3 separate regions of the Homo sapiens genome follow, and all the other regions are linked to region 3. The links come from fine-mapping of genetic effects on gene expression. A gene starts in region 3. Each other region holds a variant in brackets. All regions are shown on one strand. Distances are from middle to middle.

Evidence for each region. PIP is the estimated chance that this variant, and not a neighbour inherited with it, causes the effect.
Region 1: its variant is the best candidate, but not a certain one, in a credible set for the expression of SUPV3L1 in subcutaneous fat (GTEx, PIP 0.87).
Region 2: its variant is the best candidate, but not a certain one, in a credible set for the expression of SUPV3L1 in whole blood (INTERVAL, PIP 0.86).

What each region holds. Positions count from the first base shown.
Region 1 is chr10:69,227,217-69,232,687 of GRCh38, forward strand. HKDC1 (hexokinase domain containing 1) reads left to right here. Exons shown (of 18, transcript NM_025130.4): 2 at 1-153. LOC101928994 (a long non-coding RNA gene) reads right to left here and starts at 5,274. Exons shown (of 5, transcript NR_120648.1): 1 at 5,155-5,274. RefSeq lists enhancers at 2,003-2,172, 2,472-2,531, 2,572-2,621, 4,618-5,471, 5,431-5,471. The variant C/T (reference allele first, on the strand shown) is at 2,238.
Region 2 is chr10:69,214,050-69,219,581 of GRCh38, forward strand. LOC101928994 (a long non-coding RNA gene) reads right to left here. Exons shown (of 5, transcript NR_120648.1): 5 at 1,284-2,723. Among named protein-coding and RNA genes, the nearest start is that of HKDC1, 3.5 kb to the right of the region's middle. RefSeq lists an enhancer at 4,140-4,309. The variant G/A (reference allele first, on the strand shown) is at 3,028.
Region 3 is chr10:69,177,500-69,182,499 of GRCh38, forward strand. It overlaps SUPV3L1 (Suv3 like RNA helicase), which reads left to right and starts at 2,735. Exons shown (of 15, transcript NM_003171.5): 1 at 2,735-3,063. The coding sequence starts at 2,793. RefSeq lists an enhancer at 2,450-2,819.

The sequences.
Region 1 (5,471 bases), 50 kb after region 3:
TCCTGTATCACATGCGGCTCTCCGATGACACCCTTTTGGACATCATGAGGCGGTTCCGGGCTGAGATGGAGAAGGGCCTGGCAAAGGACACCAACCCCACGGCTGCAGTGAAGATGTTGCCCACCTTCGTCAGGGCCATTCCCGATGGTTCCGGTGAGTGCAGTTGTCCGCTGCCAGGGTCCCTGGCTCCTCTTGGCTGATGGGTGTCTAAAGTACCTAAGGTTTGCCCCTGTACCTTGGCTTCTCTCTCTAGCCCTCTCTCTGCTGTCCCACCCTCCCTGCCCCTCTCTGCTTCAGTCCTGCTGAATCCCTCTTGCAGTTCTGCAGTTCTGCAGCCCCAGGCACCGTGGCTTCTCTGCCCATCGTGGCCTCACACATTTGCTCCCTCTCCTCCTGGAGCATCTCCATGTTCTTCCCTGGTGAGTATCAACGTGGCTTTTCCGTCTCAGCGTAGTGGTCCCTGCCTCCATCTAGGAAGTATCCCTGTGCTGGGCTGGGTGCTTGTCAGGGCACTTGTCACTTTGCTGTGTCCCCACTCTGAGTCTCCACCAAATTAACCACTCACTCCGTGGGTCCAAGGTCTTACCACAGTGTTCCCAGCACCTAGTGTAGCACTGGGAATGAGTAATGGGAGCAAGAATGATGTAGTGGAAATCACATTCAATGATAATTCAACAAACCTGGGTCTGAGGCCCAGCTCTGTCACTCTCAGTGACCTGAGGCAAGTGTTTAGCCTCAGTTTGCCCAGCTGTAGAATGAGAAATGGCCTATGTATCTGTTTCCTATGGCTGCTGTGATGTATTACTACAATCACAGTGGCTGAAAACAATCGAATATATTCTCTGACAGTTCTGGTGGACGGAAGTTTGCAGTGGGTCTCACTGGGCCAAAATTCAGGTGTCGGCAGGGCTGCGTTCCTTCTGGAAGCTTGAGGGGAGAATCTGTTTCCTTAACTTTTCCAGTTTCGAGAGGCCACCTGCATCCTTGAGGCATGCCCCTTTCTGTTCTCAAAGCCAGCAGTGTAGCCTCTTCAGGTCCCTCTCTGACCTGACCTTCTGCCTCCTTTCAACATTTAAAGATCCTGTGATCACGTTAGTCATGCTTAGATAATCCAGGATAATCTCCCAACTTCAAGGTCAGCTGATGAGCAATTTTGATCCCATCTGCAACCTTAATTCCCCTTTGCCTTGCACCCTCAGATATTCACAGGATCTGGGGATTAGGATGTGAGCATCTTTGTTGGGGGTGGGGGACATTATTTTGCCTACAATGGCCTAGAAATCTGTAGATAGGATCTATGAGGTCCCATCCAACTCTTCCATTCTCAGCCTCTGAATGAAGCTGTAAGAGGGAAAAGGGCTGCTACTGGCCTGGAGTGGTGGCTCACGCCTGTAATCCCAGAACTTTGGGAGGCCGAGGGGGGCAGATCACTTGAGGTCAGATGCTCGAGACCAGCCTGGCCAACATGGTGAAACTCCACCTCTACTAAAAATACAACAATTAGCCAGGTGTGATGGCATGCACCTGTAATCCCAGCTACTCGGGAGGCTGAGGCAGGAGAATCACTTGAACCTGCAAGGCAGAGGTTGCAGTGAGCCGAGATTGCGCCACTGCACTCCAGCCTGGGTGACAGAGCGAGACGCCATCAAAAAAGAAAGAAAGAAAGGAAGAAGAAAGAAAGAAAGAAAGAGAGAGAAAGAAGAAAGAAAGGAAAGAAAGAAGAAAGAGAAAGAAAGAAAGAGAAAGAAGAAAGAAAGAAAGCAAAGAAAAAGAAAGAAAGAAAGAGAGAAAGCTGCCATTTACTGAGCAACCACTGTGGTCATGGGGTGCTGGGGACTCGCTGAGCCACATATTTCCTGTGACAACCCTGTGGTGTGGCTGTTCAGACAGAACCACCAAGGACCAAGGGGTTTCTCCCATGTCAGGGTCCCAGTGCCCAAACCGAGCTCGTGAAAGAGCACTGGGGCTCTCGCAGGAGCAGGGTCTGAGGTTTGGGAGCTCTCAGGGGGCTTTGATGGGATCAGTCGTGTTCTGGACCTCTCTGGAGCAATGCCTGGATCAAGGTAGCTTGGCTCTGCTGGTTGAGAGGCCCTGGGACACTGCACTGGGAAAGGCCCTGTGCCCTCACTTGTGGGTAGGTGCTTGGGATGGACAGTGCCCTGTCCTGGAAGGACGTTGAGCTTCGGAGAGAGACAGCCCTACTTTGAAATCTTGGCTCTGTCCTTGCCACAGCTTGA[C/T]GAGAGTACTGGGACGTGTCCTTGACAGGGCATCTGGGGCCCCTGGGAGGAAGCAGCTGAGTCATGTGGGGAGCACCAGGGCTAAGTCCGCCTGGCTTCCTGGACTGCAGCCCCTCCTCCTGATACAGACAAGGTGTGTCCCCAGAAGCAAGGGAAGGTGGCCTTTGATGGTCTGGAGGCTCTGGGACAGGCGGTGTCCTCCTGGCCCTGGCTGCTTCTGAAGGTTCAGAAGTGAAACTAACTAAGTCATAGAAACTCTCTCCTCCTTAGCCGGGAAGACGCCCAGCTCCCCATCCCCGTCTCCGCAGAGCCTCTCACCACACAAAGCATCTCACCAGTGATTCTGTTGTGCCGAGGTCCCTGGGCCCAGAGTCCCTAATAAGCCAGGTGTTCTTGGTAAATCCCGGCACCATACATGATTGTCAGGATTTAATGAGATCATGTGGATGGCGTGCTTTAACATCTCTAAAATCTTGTCCCAAGTCCTCCTAGCTCTTGTGAGCTGGTGGTATAATTTCATGATTACCGACAAAAAACAAGCAAAACTCTCCTAATTCCTTATGGTGTCCGTTTCAGAAATGTATGCAGCTTCCAGAGAAGTCCTGAGTTTGCCTACTCCCATCAGGACCTATCTGCGAGGGAGTCACCTGTTTGAGCCTTAGTTACCACCCAGCCTTTTGGTCAGGGGGCTGCAGTGGTCTGTTCTGACAGGATCAAGTGCCTTAAAAGTGCTGTGTTAATACTGGAGCCTTCTCTGCCAGTCATGGAAGGGGCATGGGAAGCATGAGGGTGACTGTGATTCTTTGGCTTGACCCCTGCTGGCTCTGTTCCAGGCCTTAGCCTCCAGTCAGCCTCCAAGGCCAAATAGGCCTTGGGGGTGAGCCCGGGAGCCCTGAGGTCGTCAGCCTGGAGCCTCGAGTGTTTCCTAATACACACTTTCCCAGCCCCTCCCCCTGGGGACTCTGAATCTCCAGGAATCTCCGCATTCAGCCACTGTGCACCTTTGGGAGACTCTGCACTGGGTAAAAGGAGGGAGTGAAGGCACCAGCACCAGCAGTGACTTACGAGAAGGGAACCATTGGGTCCAAGGCAGTTCATGGAGGGTCCTCTGGAGCAGGCAGATTGGCCAAAGCAATTTACCCCGCTTAGGACACTGTTTTCTCTTTTCTTTCTTTTTAGAAACAAGGTCTCCCTCCGTTGCCCAACCTGCAGTGCAATGGAGCCATCATAGATCACTGCAGCCTTGACCTTCTAGGCTCAAGTGATCCTCCTGCTTCAGCCTCCCAAGTAGCTGGGACTACAGGTGCATGCCACTACGCCCAACTGACTTTTTTGTCTTTTGTTTTGTAGAGACAGGGTTTTACCATATTGACCAGGCTGGTGTTGAACTCTTGGCAAGGGATTAATTCTCCTGCCTGGGCCTCCCAAAGTGCTGGGACCACAGGTGTGAGCCACCGTGCCTGGCCGGGGCTGTTTTCTTGATGTCTGTGAAGACTCTGAGGCCCCACAGACTGCTGTTGCCTGGGCAAGTCCTCCCTCTCCCAGGGTCCACTGGTTCCTTTTTTCTGGGGTCAGAGACAGAAGGGATCACACCATGTGGCATCCATGAAATGGCACCTCGAGCCACTGGTGGAGTGAGGTGTTTGATAGTGATTGCGATGCGGGCCGGGAGTGGGATGCCTCCACACCGACACTGGCCAGGTCTCAGCACATCCCCTCCCGTCCGATGGCAGTGCAGCAGCCTCTTCTTTTGTTAAACCCTCAGTCTATTCTGGTTGGTGTCAGAGGCATTTGTCCCCAGAATCTCAGATCTTGGCACTCCCTAGCTTAAAATCTTTCTGCAGCTCCCTCTCACCTTCCAGATAAAGCCCAAGCTCCTTGGGGTGGATAGCTTTTCCAAATCCTTCCAAATTTAACCTGAGAGCCACCTTCCAACCTCATTTCTGTGACAGCTGCCCTCCTTTGGCAAAAGCACACTCACTCTTAGCGGATGCTTTCTCATTCCTTTGCCCGTGGTTCCTCTCCCTGGGACCCCCGCTCCCGGCAGCCTGGCAGCCTGACTCCTGCTCACCCTTCAACACTCAGCTCTGTGTCCCCTCCCTGCAAAGCCAGCTGCCTTTGTCTCCCAGCTTTGACCTGGATATCTCTCCCTGTGCCTCTCACAATCTGAGCACTGGTCCTACTATATGGAAATAGCTGATTTATGCGCCTGTATTTCGGATCAATTTCCCAGGGAGCACACCGTCTTTCATCTGCGCATCCCTAGCACCTAACACATGTTACTCAGCACAGAGTAGATGCTCAGTAAATGTGTGGACATAGATTGTGGGATCTACCCTACCTCCTACACAGCAAGACAGCATCTGGGAGAACCCTCTTACTTGGTGCATAATATATACTAATAAAAGTTGCATAGGATTAACTCCCTGAATTCCCTCACCAAATAATAAATGACTCCATCAGCTCCTTTGTGGCTGATCTGTGAAGGTAAGAATTTCCGGATGTCTACACAAAAACAAAAAATCGAGCTGGCTGCACCTTTGCTACTCTAACTATGGTCTACAGACCAGCAACAGCAGCAACATCACCAAGTTGGCCAGGCTGTTCTTGAACTGCTGACCTCAGGTGATCTGCCCGTCTCGGCCTCCCAAAATGCTGGGATTACAGGCATGAGCCACTGTGCCCAGCCCCCACCTTTCAATTAATGGCATCTGTCTTGGGCTGGGCTGGGTTGTGTTCCAATGTCTCCTTTTGGAGTGGCTCTGGCCTAAAAAAATCAGCATCCTTGGCACCTCAAGGGCCATTGTTTAGTCCCTGTCTCCTCTCCCCTCCAGGAGTGTTTTCCCTCTGCCCATAGGATCATCGGCTGCAGGAGGCTGGCTGCTCCTCGCCGCACATCCTGTCTTCCCCCTCATACCTTTATCCGAGTTTCCCCAGGCTGGGAGCACCAGCTCTCTCTTCCCAGTGATGGCATCCCAGGATGGGCTCCACCGTCGAGGCCACCTCTCATACCACCGCAAGGGCTGTGCTCACATTTGCCCTCTCCAGTTGACATGCACATTCCTACAGCATGAGCCAGTGGGTTGGGCTCAGGCTGCAGAGTCAGGCTGACTTAGTTCACATCTCAGCTCTGCGCCTTACCTCGAGGGCTCTGAGAAATGGCCAGAGTCCTCAGCCTTGGCAAATGAGCATAATGATACCTAGTGGCTGTGATTTGAAGACGTTGATTATATG
Region 2 (5,532 bases), 37 kb after region 3:
GAGATTGGTCCTTTCTCCCTCACTTATATATTTATACAATTATTTGTTAACATCAGTATGGGCTAATGGAAATGTAGACTTTGGGTTATAATCCAATCATACTTTATCTTGCCCAATTTTTTCTTTCTTTCTTTTTTTTAACACTCCTATCAATGTTTTCTAGCTTTGGTTATTAGGAACTTTTTCACTTTCAGTTGGCTCCTGTGTTCCTTTGACACATCCGTATCATTTGGTTTTTGTTTTGTTGATTAGTTCCTTCCTTTCTGGCACTACAAGATGCGCCAGGACCATCTTGTATAGACCTGGTTCTTTGATCTGGGCACTAGGTGTGCTTGTTGCTACTGGGTGTCATTACTTCTAGTGTTTCTCAGCTGACAAAGCAAGGACATATGCACGTGTATACTAAGCTATATACACGTCTTCAAATCTTTATATAAACATATATGTATAGTCATCTATATGAATATCAAGCTAAACATGAGTGTATACTGATGTCCTCAATTCTAATCCAGTGACATGGATCATTCTAGCCTTCTCCCCTGCTTGAAGCCTCTCACTCCAGCAGCAAGAAACCTCCCTCCCGCCATCCACCATCCATGTACTTAATTGTTCAATTCCAGTATTCTTGTGTAGTGGTTTCAGAATTGTTAAGCGTGCTCTTGCAGGAAGCAACTTTATCAATCAGAATACAGTGCTACATACACTTCCTTTTACTTGTAGTCTTACTCTATTAATTTCCAAAGTTTCTTAGGTCAGCATATTTTCCCTCCCCTTCCCCTTCAGTGAGGCTATTTCACACACTTGCAACACAGTTAGACTCATGTCACAGTCTGTGTTGCGTCGCTGACCTCCTAAATGTTTTTTTGAATGTATGTACATTAAAGTTCATTCTTTGTGCTGTCAAATTCTATGGGTTTTGAAAGTGTGTCATGTATTTGCCGTTACAGTGTCATACAGAATAGTTTCACTGCCCTAAAAACGCCCTTGCGTTTCACTTATTCAGCATCCCCCACCTTTCCAAATCCCTGGCCACTACTGACTTGTTTACTGTCTCTATAGTTTTCCCTTTTCCATACCTGTGGGTTTGGGTTTTTTTGGGGTTTTTTTTTTTTCCGCTGAGATGGAGTCTGGGTCTGTCGCCCAAGCTTGAGTGCAGTGGTGCAATCTCAGCTCATTGCAAAATCTGTTCCCCAGGTTCAAGCTATTCTTGTGCTTCAGTCTCCTGGGTAGCTGGGATTAGAGGTGTCTACCACCATGCCTGGCTAATTTTTTTTTGTATTTTTAGTAGGGATGGGGGTACCACCTGGGCCAGGCTGGTCTCGAACTCCTGACCTCAAATGATCCACCTGCCTTGGCCTCCCAAAATGCTGGGATTACAGGGGTGAGCCACCGTGCCTGGCCAAGCTTTTTTATATAGCTTTTTAACCAATCTCTTGTTTTTGGCTCTATGTCTTGCCCCAGACCTCTGATTCCTGAGCATTTTAGAGTTTTACAAACGTCACAGCTCCTTTCTCACCCGAGTCACCCTCTGCGGGCACTCAGGTTTCAGTGTTTGCTCTACTAAGCAATTACTTCCGTGAGCTTCCTGTCTTCCAGAATTATGTTAAGATCTCTTATCAGTCACTGTTTCCTTTCTTTTTGTCCTTGTAGGTTAATGCCGTGTTTAACCAGAAGTCTCATTTGCTTTGAAAAGTTGGTTATTTTGTGCAATTGAGATTGTAATTATTCTGAAAAATGTTAAAAGTCACATGAACTGCATTTTCTTGTATGGCTTTTCTTTCCTTGATAGGTGTTTTGCAAATATGACCCTTAATGTACAGTTGTGATTTAGAAATCATGTCAGAATTTCTTCCTGAGCATTCCTTGTCTTCGGTTCAGAATAAACCTGTAAAAATGATTAGCAGCATTCTTTTGAAACTTGCTGAGGTTAGCATTTCTGCTTCATTTGTGGCTGCTCCGATAGAGACACCATTGTGACTGTAACCACTGGCAGCGTTTGGAAGTCTCTACATTGGTTTTCTTATTATGGAAGTTTGCTCTCCCACACAGTTTCTGATTCTTTTGCAGCAAGTGGAATACCAGCAGGTCACACTGATTTATGTTATGACGACTTAACTTTGGACTTACCATTAAAAAGAATACAGGGCAGAATTCAAGAGCTGTTTTCTTTAGTAACAGGAATAGAATTTCCATAAAATTCCCAACTGTTCCTTTAATTCCAGTACATGGAACAGGTACTTTCTAATGGTTTAGGATCATGCCTTACTGAGTGGACTGAAAGGTCTGCACACATTTTCTTATCCCAAGAGACCAAGTTGGGTGAGCGAAGAGGGGTCCCCAGCCAGGGAAAGGCTGAGCTTCAGGAGATGCTTCTAGTGTGCCCACTGTAGACCACATGCCTTTCCTTGTGTGATAATTTGCTTTCTTTCTCACTGTGACCACTGACATAGCTATGAAGCTTTTACAGATATGAATATAGACTTGGACCTTTACCTGCAGTTTAAGAAAAGCCAAAGTAGGACCCCAGGGCCTGTGCACTTTCCACTGTGTTAGAAAGAGCTTAGGGCCATTTTTCCAGCTGAGGCCCCAAGTCTCCCCGTGCCTTGTTTCCAGCCTAGCCAGTGTAGCACAGCGGGCAAGCAAGAACTCTGCAGCTAGACTGCCTGCGTTCAAATCTCGATTTCACTGCGTCCCAGTTGGGCTCTGTGCCTTGGTTTCTCCATCTGTAAAATAGGGAGAATGACAGTTACTGTGGAATTAATATCGTAAGACATCTAGTAAACCCCATGGGGAAGTGTTTGCTAAATAAATAGGTAAATTTTGCTGGACTTCTAGTCCTCCCACCATACTCAGTACTTAAAGAGAAACAGAAATTATCTTTGAGCCTTGCCAAAACGGACCGTGTAGATTAAAGTGGAGCTCTATGAAACGGAGATGTGTCTACAGATGGGAGAGTTTCCCTTCTTACATGGAAGATTTGGGCCAGATGGGTGATACGCTTTAACTAAAATGTCACTTGTCAGTGTC[G/A]GCCCTCAAATGGGTGTTCTTAAGCAAAATCCAACTACTTATAAGATTTAAACCTAGATATCCTTGAATAGCCAATAGAACTGTAGTAAGGGTGAAAAATCCCAAGACTTGAATTGGAGTAATCAGATGAGGAATGATAAAATAACCTAATTATTTTGTCTTGATTCTATAAAGTGAGAGGGCTGAGCTAGATGACTCCAAATGCATGTGATCTCTGTAATCATTAAACTTCCTGGTTTAGTCACCTTACTCAGGCCTGGAATGTAGACGCTAATGTGCTCAGATTAAAAAGGGAATGATGCAATAGATGAAAATCCTCTGGTGTCATTTGCCTGATTAAAATTCCAAAGGCTGCCTATCTGACTCACACAAGCAACCGTGAGATTACAGAGATCTTTGGTTATGGTTTGCATCTTTTGACCACTGGCTACTGTAACCTCTTATCCCTATGTCGAACAAATCAATGACAGTTGGTTCATACTGCACTGCCCAGGTTACATTTTTTTTTTTTTTTGAAATGGAGTCTCACTCTGTTGCCCAGGCTGGAGTGCAGTGGTGCAATATTGGCTCACTGCAACCTCCACCTCCTGGGTTTAAACAGTTCTCCTACCTCTGTCTCCTGAGTAGCTGGGATTGCAGGCACCCGCCACCATGCCCAGGTAATTTTTGCATTTTTAGTAGAGACAGGGTTTCACCATGTTGGCAAGGCTGGTCTCGAACTCCTGACCTCAGGCAATCTGCCCACCTCCCACCTCAGCCTCCCAAAGTGCTGGGATTACAGGTGTGAGCCACTGCGCCCAGCCCAGGTTACTTTTTAAATGGGGGAATTAAATGCTGGGTGTGGTGATGCAAGCCTGTAGTCCTAGCTACTCAGGAGGCTGAAGCCAGAGGATCACTTGAGCCCAGGAGTTCGAATCCAGCCTGGGCAAGACTGGATGGAGTTCAAATCCAGCCTGGGCAAGACAAGATGTAGTGAGACTCTGTTTCTGAAATAAATCAACTAGTGGGGGAATTAGGATAAATAATGTCATCACTTACGGGCAGATGGCCTTCCCAGGATGTTATCCTCAGCCAATGGGGGCTAGGGCCTAGGATGCGCATTTCAGAATACCAACAATTCCACCTGGTTTGGGGCACTGAATGGTTTGGGGAACTAAAGGTTCATCTTTGTTTGCTTGTGTAATAAAGGAGCAAGCTAAAAGTCATAGTCTGAGGGTAAATTGACTGAAAAGGATGGGGATCCTCAATCTGGGAGACAGTTTTAATATGCTTATATCAATCTGAATAAAGCATCTGGAGTAATTTTAACCGAGCCTCCTCTGCATTGTGGGCTTAAGTGAGACCTGATGGCTCGTCCACACGGCAATGGGTAGAGAGCACTGAATTCCAGCTACTCAGGAGGCTGAGGCAGGAGAATTGCTTTAACCCAGGAGGTGGAGGTTGCAGTGAGTTGAGATTGAGCCACTGTACTCCAGCCTGGGCAACAGAGTGAGACTCTGTCTCAAAAAAAAGAAAAAGAAAAACAAATTCTTAACATCCCAACAGAATGCTGCTACTAATAGTTATCAATTGCGTATCTATTGAGTATCTATTGCGTGGAGAAAGCAGGGCTGGAGAGCCAATGCCATGTATTATAGCTGGGCCCTGGAATCAAACTTCCAGGATTGACCCCTTGCTGTCCTGTTTATGGCTTTGTGATCACGTAACCTTTCTGGGCCTCAATTTTTTCATCTATAAAATAAGAGTGGGCCGGGAGCAGTGGCTCATGCCTGTAATTCCAACACTTTGGGAGGCTGAGGTGGGTAAATCGCTTGAGCCCAGGAATTCAAGACCAGCCAGGGCAACATGGCAAAACCCTATCTCTACAAAAATACAAAAATTAGCTGGGCATGGTGCCACGTGCCTGTAGCCCCAGCTACCCTGGGGATTGAGATGGGAGGATCACCTGAGCCCAGAAGGCTGATGTTGCAGCGAGTCATGATTCCACGACTGCATTCCAGCCTGGGGGATGAATGAGACCCTGTCTAAAAAATAATAATAACAAGAGTAATAAAAACAAAATGGGATTGGTAAATGCTCCATCCATGTTAGCCGCTGTTGTTAACGCTGTTGTTATTGGTTTCATTAGCCAGCCAGTGACTGTGGGAAGAGTGCAAGGTTGATTGTACCCATGTATTGGGTGCTTTCTGGGTCCTTCTCATGTCAAGTATGATGAGTGAGAAGTGAGTGAATAAAACATCTCAGTGGCCTGAGACATTTCTCTTTTTTTTCTTTTTTTGAGATGGAGTTTTGCTCTTGTCACCCAGGCTGGAGTGCAATGGCGCGATCTCGGCTCACTGCAACCTCTGCCTCCCAGGTTCAAGTGATTCTCCTGCCTCAGCCTCCCAAGTAGCTGGGATTACAGGCACCTGCCACCACTCCTGGCTAAGTTTTTTGTATTTTTAGTAGAGATGGGGTTTCACCATGTTGGCCAGGCTGGTCTCGAACTCCTGACCTCATGATCTG
Region 3 (5,000 bases):
ATAGGAGGATACCAGTTACATAGTTACTGCATTAATCCATTCAACAAGCAAAATAAAACATTTATAGAGGCTCTAATATGTGTTAGGTGCTGATTACACTTACTGCTATAAATATGACATAACCAGTATAGATATGACATCTTTTTTTGTAAAAGCAAAAATTTTATATTGAATTTTCCCATTTCAATGTTTATAGTAGAACTTAATGAATGGCTGAAAGGGAAAGCCTGTATGTGCTATCATAAAATTCAGATTGCATTTTCTACCTGCAAGGAGGTGCAAACAAAATTACAGTTAAAATAGTTTTGAGGATTTTTTTTTTCTGTAAAACTATACTAGGGTTGGGCTAGATCTGTAAGACTAGTAACTGCCAGGTGCTGTGGCATGCACCTGTAGTTCCAGTTACTCAGGAGGCTGACACAGGATTGCTTGAGCCCAGGAGTTCACGATCACCCTTCCAAAGAAAAAAAAAGACTCGTACAAATGTTGATTCTGGCCTAATATGCTGCTCCTGTCCAAAAAGCCCACCTATTTGCTTTGAAATCAGAAAGACTGGCTGGGCACGGTGGCTCACACCTGTAATCCCAGCACTTTGGGAGGCCGAGGCAGCTGGATCACTTGAGGCCAGGAGTTCTGAGACCAGCCTGGCCAACATGGTGAAACTAAAGAGAATACAAAAATTAGCCAGGTATTGTGGTGCAAGCCTGTAGTCCCAGCTACTCGGGAGGCTGAGGCATGAGAATTGCTTGAGCCTGGGAGGTGGACGTTGCAGTGAGTTATGATTGCACCACTGCACTTCAGCCTGGGCAACAGAGTGAGACTGTCTCAAAAAAAAGAAAAAAAAAAGATTTAGATTTGTATCTGACTCTACCACTTACTGGGGCAAGTTAGTTAACCTGGTGACAATAATACCTCTAAATTGTTGTCAAGCATATTAAAAGATTAAAAGGAACAACATAGTGCTTGCCTCAGTTACGTATTAAACGTTTGGTTTATCCTTCATTCTCCTAGTTTCCAAATCTGACGAGACATCATTGTTTATTAACATTTTCTAGCATATTTAGTCACTCACTACATTATCTAAGGAGTCTTGTAAAACCTCTCATTCCACATACATGGTCTCCATCATAACTCAGACACAGGAATCTACCACCTTCAGCTAGAACTGTTGATAAAGTTGTAATTTTCCTCCCTGCATATTTGTGTTTATCCTAGTCTATCCTAGGTACTTCCTAATGAATGATTTCTCTTCTCAAAAATATAATCACTATTTGTAAGCCATAGAATTAGGTCTGCGTTAACTCTGTTACTTAAATTTTTTTCAGTATGTCTTTTCCTTAGTTAAGCCTCTGCTTACATCGTTTCCACTGACTAGAATTTACTTACCGCTTCTCTATGTTTTACTTTTAAGTCTGGCAGAAATCTCCTTACCACTCTCAAATTGCTCCTTTCTTTGAACTGCCATTAGTCTATTAGAGTAATAAGTGCATTATTTAACGTGTACTGTTCTTACCACCAAAACCAGATCAGAACCTTTGAAAGCAAAGGACTGTCTCCTTGTATCCCTGATGTTTAAAAATTATTTTGTGAATCAAAGGCACGTGGCAAATTGTTACTGGAATCCTATTAGACATACAGTATTGTATATTACATAACACGTTCCTTCAAGTTGTAAGATCTTAATGATGTAAGTATAAAGAGATGTGGATGGAGATGCTAAACTTGTGAATTTTTTTTTTTTTTAGACGGAGTCTCACTCTGTTGCCCAGGCTGGAGAGCAGTGGCCCGATCTCGGCTCACTGCAACCTCTGGCACCCAGGTTCAAACGATTCTCCTGCCTCCGCCTCCCTAGTAATTGGGATTACAGGTGTGCACCACCACGCCCGGCTGATTCTTGTATTTTTAGTAGAGAGGGGATTTCACCATGTTTGCCAGGCTGGTCTCGAACTCCTGACCTCAGATGATCCACCGGCCTCGCCCTCCCTAAGTGCTGCGATTACAGGCGTGAACCACCACGCCCGGGTTAAACTTGTGAATTTAACATGTTGCAGCCTCACATGAGAACACGGTATTCAACAAATGCAATGGAACGAAACTATGGCTGGGGTACAGAGCACGTATTTTTGCCATGTGGTCACAACTATGTGGTCATAGCTGCTAGGATGATGTACGCAAACTGCTCACATTAAAGCAAAAGTACTTACGTAATACAAGGGGTTTAATAGTGCAACAATATTTCTTAGCAACATTTCTGAGGGGCATATCAAGTTATTATCGCTAACGTTATCATATCAGGAAATGACGGTTAACAATGCAAGAAACTTTTGGGAAATGCTATTTAGTGTTTGAGTCCGCAAGACATACTCGTACCCTGAGCATTCGCAGTTGCTGCTCCACCACCCATTCTCTCACTGCTCACCCACGTGCTTCTGGACACTTGCTTACCAAAGTACTAGTTTGCATCACGTGACACGACTAGCAGGCCCCCTCCGCTCATGTATGACATCCCAAAGATGCCTGATTATTTTCCCTTCTTTAGGGAAAGGTGGTCCCAATCACCAACAAAACAGAGAAAGAGAACGAGAATTATCTCTAGTGGTTTTGCCTGCTAATCTTCTTTTTCCCTGAAAGAACACCCTCACGGCACGGCGTTTTCCTTAACGGTCAGGCGTTTTCCCGGGCAGCTTACCTGCTCGGCCTGGGTCTTTCTGGACAGCAGGCGCTGGAGGTGCGCGTCACTGTCCGCCGCCGTGTCCGCGGCTGCGCCAGACAGTGTAGAACCTGCGGCCTCGATGTCCTTCTCCCGTGCCCTATTGTGGGCTCGGCTCCCGGCGGGGCGCCAGGCTGGCCACCGGGCAGCCATCTGCTCTGCCCTTCGTCCCCACTTTGGGCCCTTTCCCGGGGTTCTGGGGCAAGTTTCTGTCCTTGCCACCGCCTCCTCCTCTGCCTCCGGTGGCTCCAAAATACCAAACACGTCCTTGTTCGTGCCCCTGACTGTGAAACCTCAGGGCCCCAGCGCCGACGGCGACGTCGGGGCCGAGCTAACCCGGCCTCTGGACAAGAGTGAGTGCGGGAACTACTGAGGGCGGCAGAGGGTGGTGTCTGCTGGGCCGAGGCTGGTTGGGAGGAAGCTACATCCCCTTCCCCTGGGGATCCGAGGTCCCATCGAGTGTTGTCATCGTGCCTCTCAGTGTCTGCCTCCTTCGCTGGTGTGTGAGCCCCTCAAACGGCTTAGGACTGTATCTGATTAATTCTTAACGCCTCGTCCCAGAAGCGGCCTTTTCCCTTTTACTGCCCTGCTCTCTGAATGGTTTAGACACTCATGTGTTGGGAAGATTTGACTTTTTTGAGTTGTTAGGTGGACGCCCGCTCTTTCTTGCATTCTTTGTTTCTCTCCCACCCCCGAATGGGATGTGGCAGTGAAAAGCCAGCGGAGACTCCTTTTAGGATTCTTTATCATTGAGGAGGCGCCGACTCATACCACGCTGTTAGGCTGTGTGGTGGTTGCCAAGAGGAACCAGACTCAGATCCAGATCCCCTCTTAAGAAACGTAACGGTATCGTGGGGGAGGACACGTGTATGGAAAGTGAACTGTAATACAAGGTAGAACATGACAAGGTCTAGAACAAGGTAGGGTGTCCCCGGCTCCAGAGAGAAAAGAAGAGGTAGCATCAGTTAGTGGCAGCGGGCTTTGCTCAGCAAAACTTAAGTTTGGATGGATTCGTTGACAGAGAGGCATGTGAATGTTTTCAAGGTGAGTTTCGGGATGATTAGGGAGGTAAGGGAGTTTCCTCTGACCATATGAAACTGGGAGATTGAGGAAATGCTATCCAGAATTGTCTCCAGGAATAGGAGGAGAAATGTCTCACTTCAACAAGCGACATTGGTGCCTCCTATTGTAAATCTAAAATATAGACTACAATATGTTTTTCAGAGCAGAAGTACAGTACTTTCACTAAACATGTGATGGAACTCACAGTATATGTTATTCTTTGACATATTCTTCCAGTGTTAAGCAAGGCCTTTCACTTTACTTGGTGCTGGGAGACTGTCTTTATTTTCTGCTGTTATAACATAATACCTGAGACTGAGTAATTTATAAACAATAGAGGTGTATTTGACTCATGGTTCTGAGCCGGGATCTGATGAGGGCCTTTGGCTGCATCATCACATGGTGGAAGGTGGAAAGGCAAATGAGCCTGTGAGACAGAGAAAGGGGGCTGAACTTATCCTTTTTTCCTGTGATAACTGACTCCTGTGATAATGGCATTAATCCACTCACAAAGGCAAACTCCTCATGTCCTAATCACCTCTTAAAGGTTCCACCTCTCAACTGTTAAAATAGCAATTAAATTTCAATATGAGTCTTGGAGAAGACATTCAAACCATAGCAGAGAATGTGTTATTTTAATAATGTAATTATACTATTATTTATTTTTAAATTATAAAAATACATAAAATTTACTCTTTTAAGCTTTTTTTTAGTTTTTTTTTCTTTACTTTTTTTTTTTTAGAGACAGGGTCTTGCTCTGTTACCCAAGCTGGAGTATAGTGGTATGATCATAGCTCACTGTAACCTCCAACTCCCAGACTCAAGCAATCCTCCTGGCTCAGCCTTCTAAGTAGCTAGGAATACAGGCGTGCATCACCATGCCTGGATAATTTTTTAATTTTTTGTAGAGATGGGGTCTTGCTATGTTGCCCAGGCTGGTCTCAAACTTCTGGGCTCCAGGGATCCTCCTGCCATGGCCTCCCAAAGCCCTGAGATTACAGACCTGAGCCACTGCACCCAGCCAGTCTTAATTGTTTTTAAGCACATAGTTCACTAGCGTTAAGTATATTGACATTGTCGCGAAATAGATGAGAACTTTTTCATCTTGCAGAGTTGAAACTCAAACAATAGTTTACCCATTAAAGAACAATTTTCCATTATTTTATATTATTTGAAGGCATAAGGTAATTTGGATGAGATAATTTGCCTTATTGTATTCAAATATTGA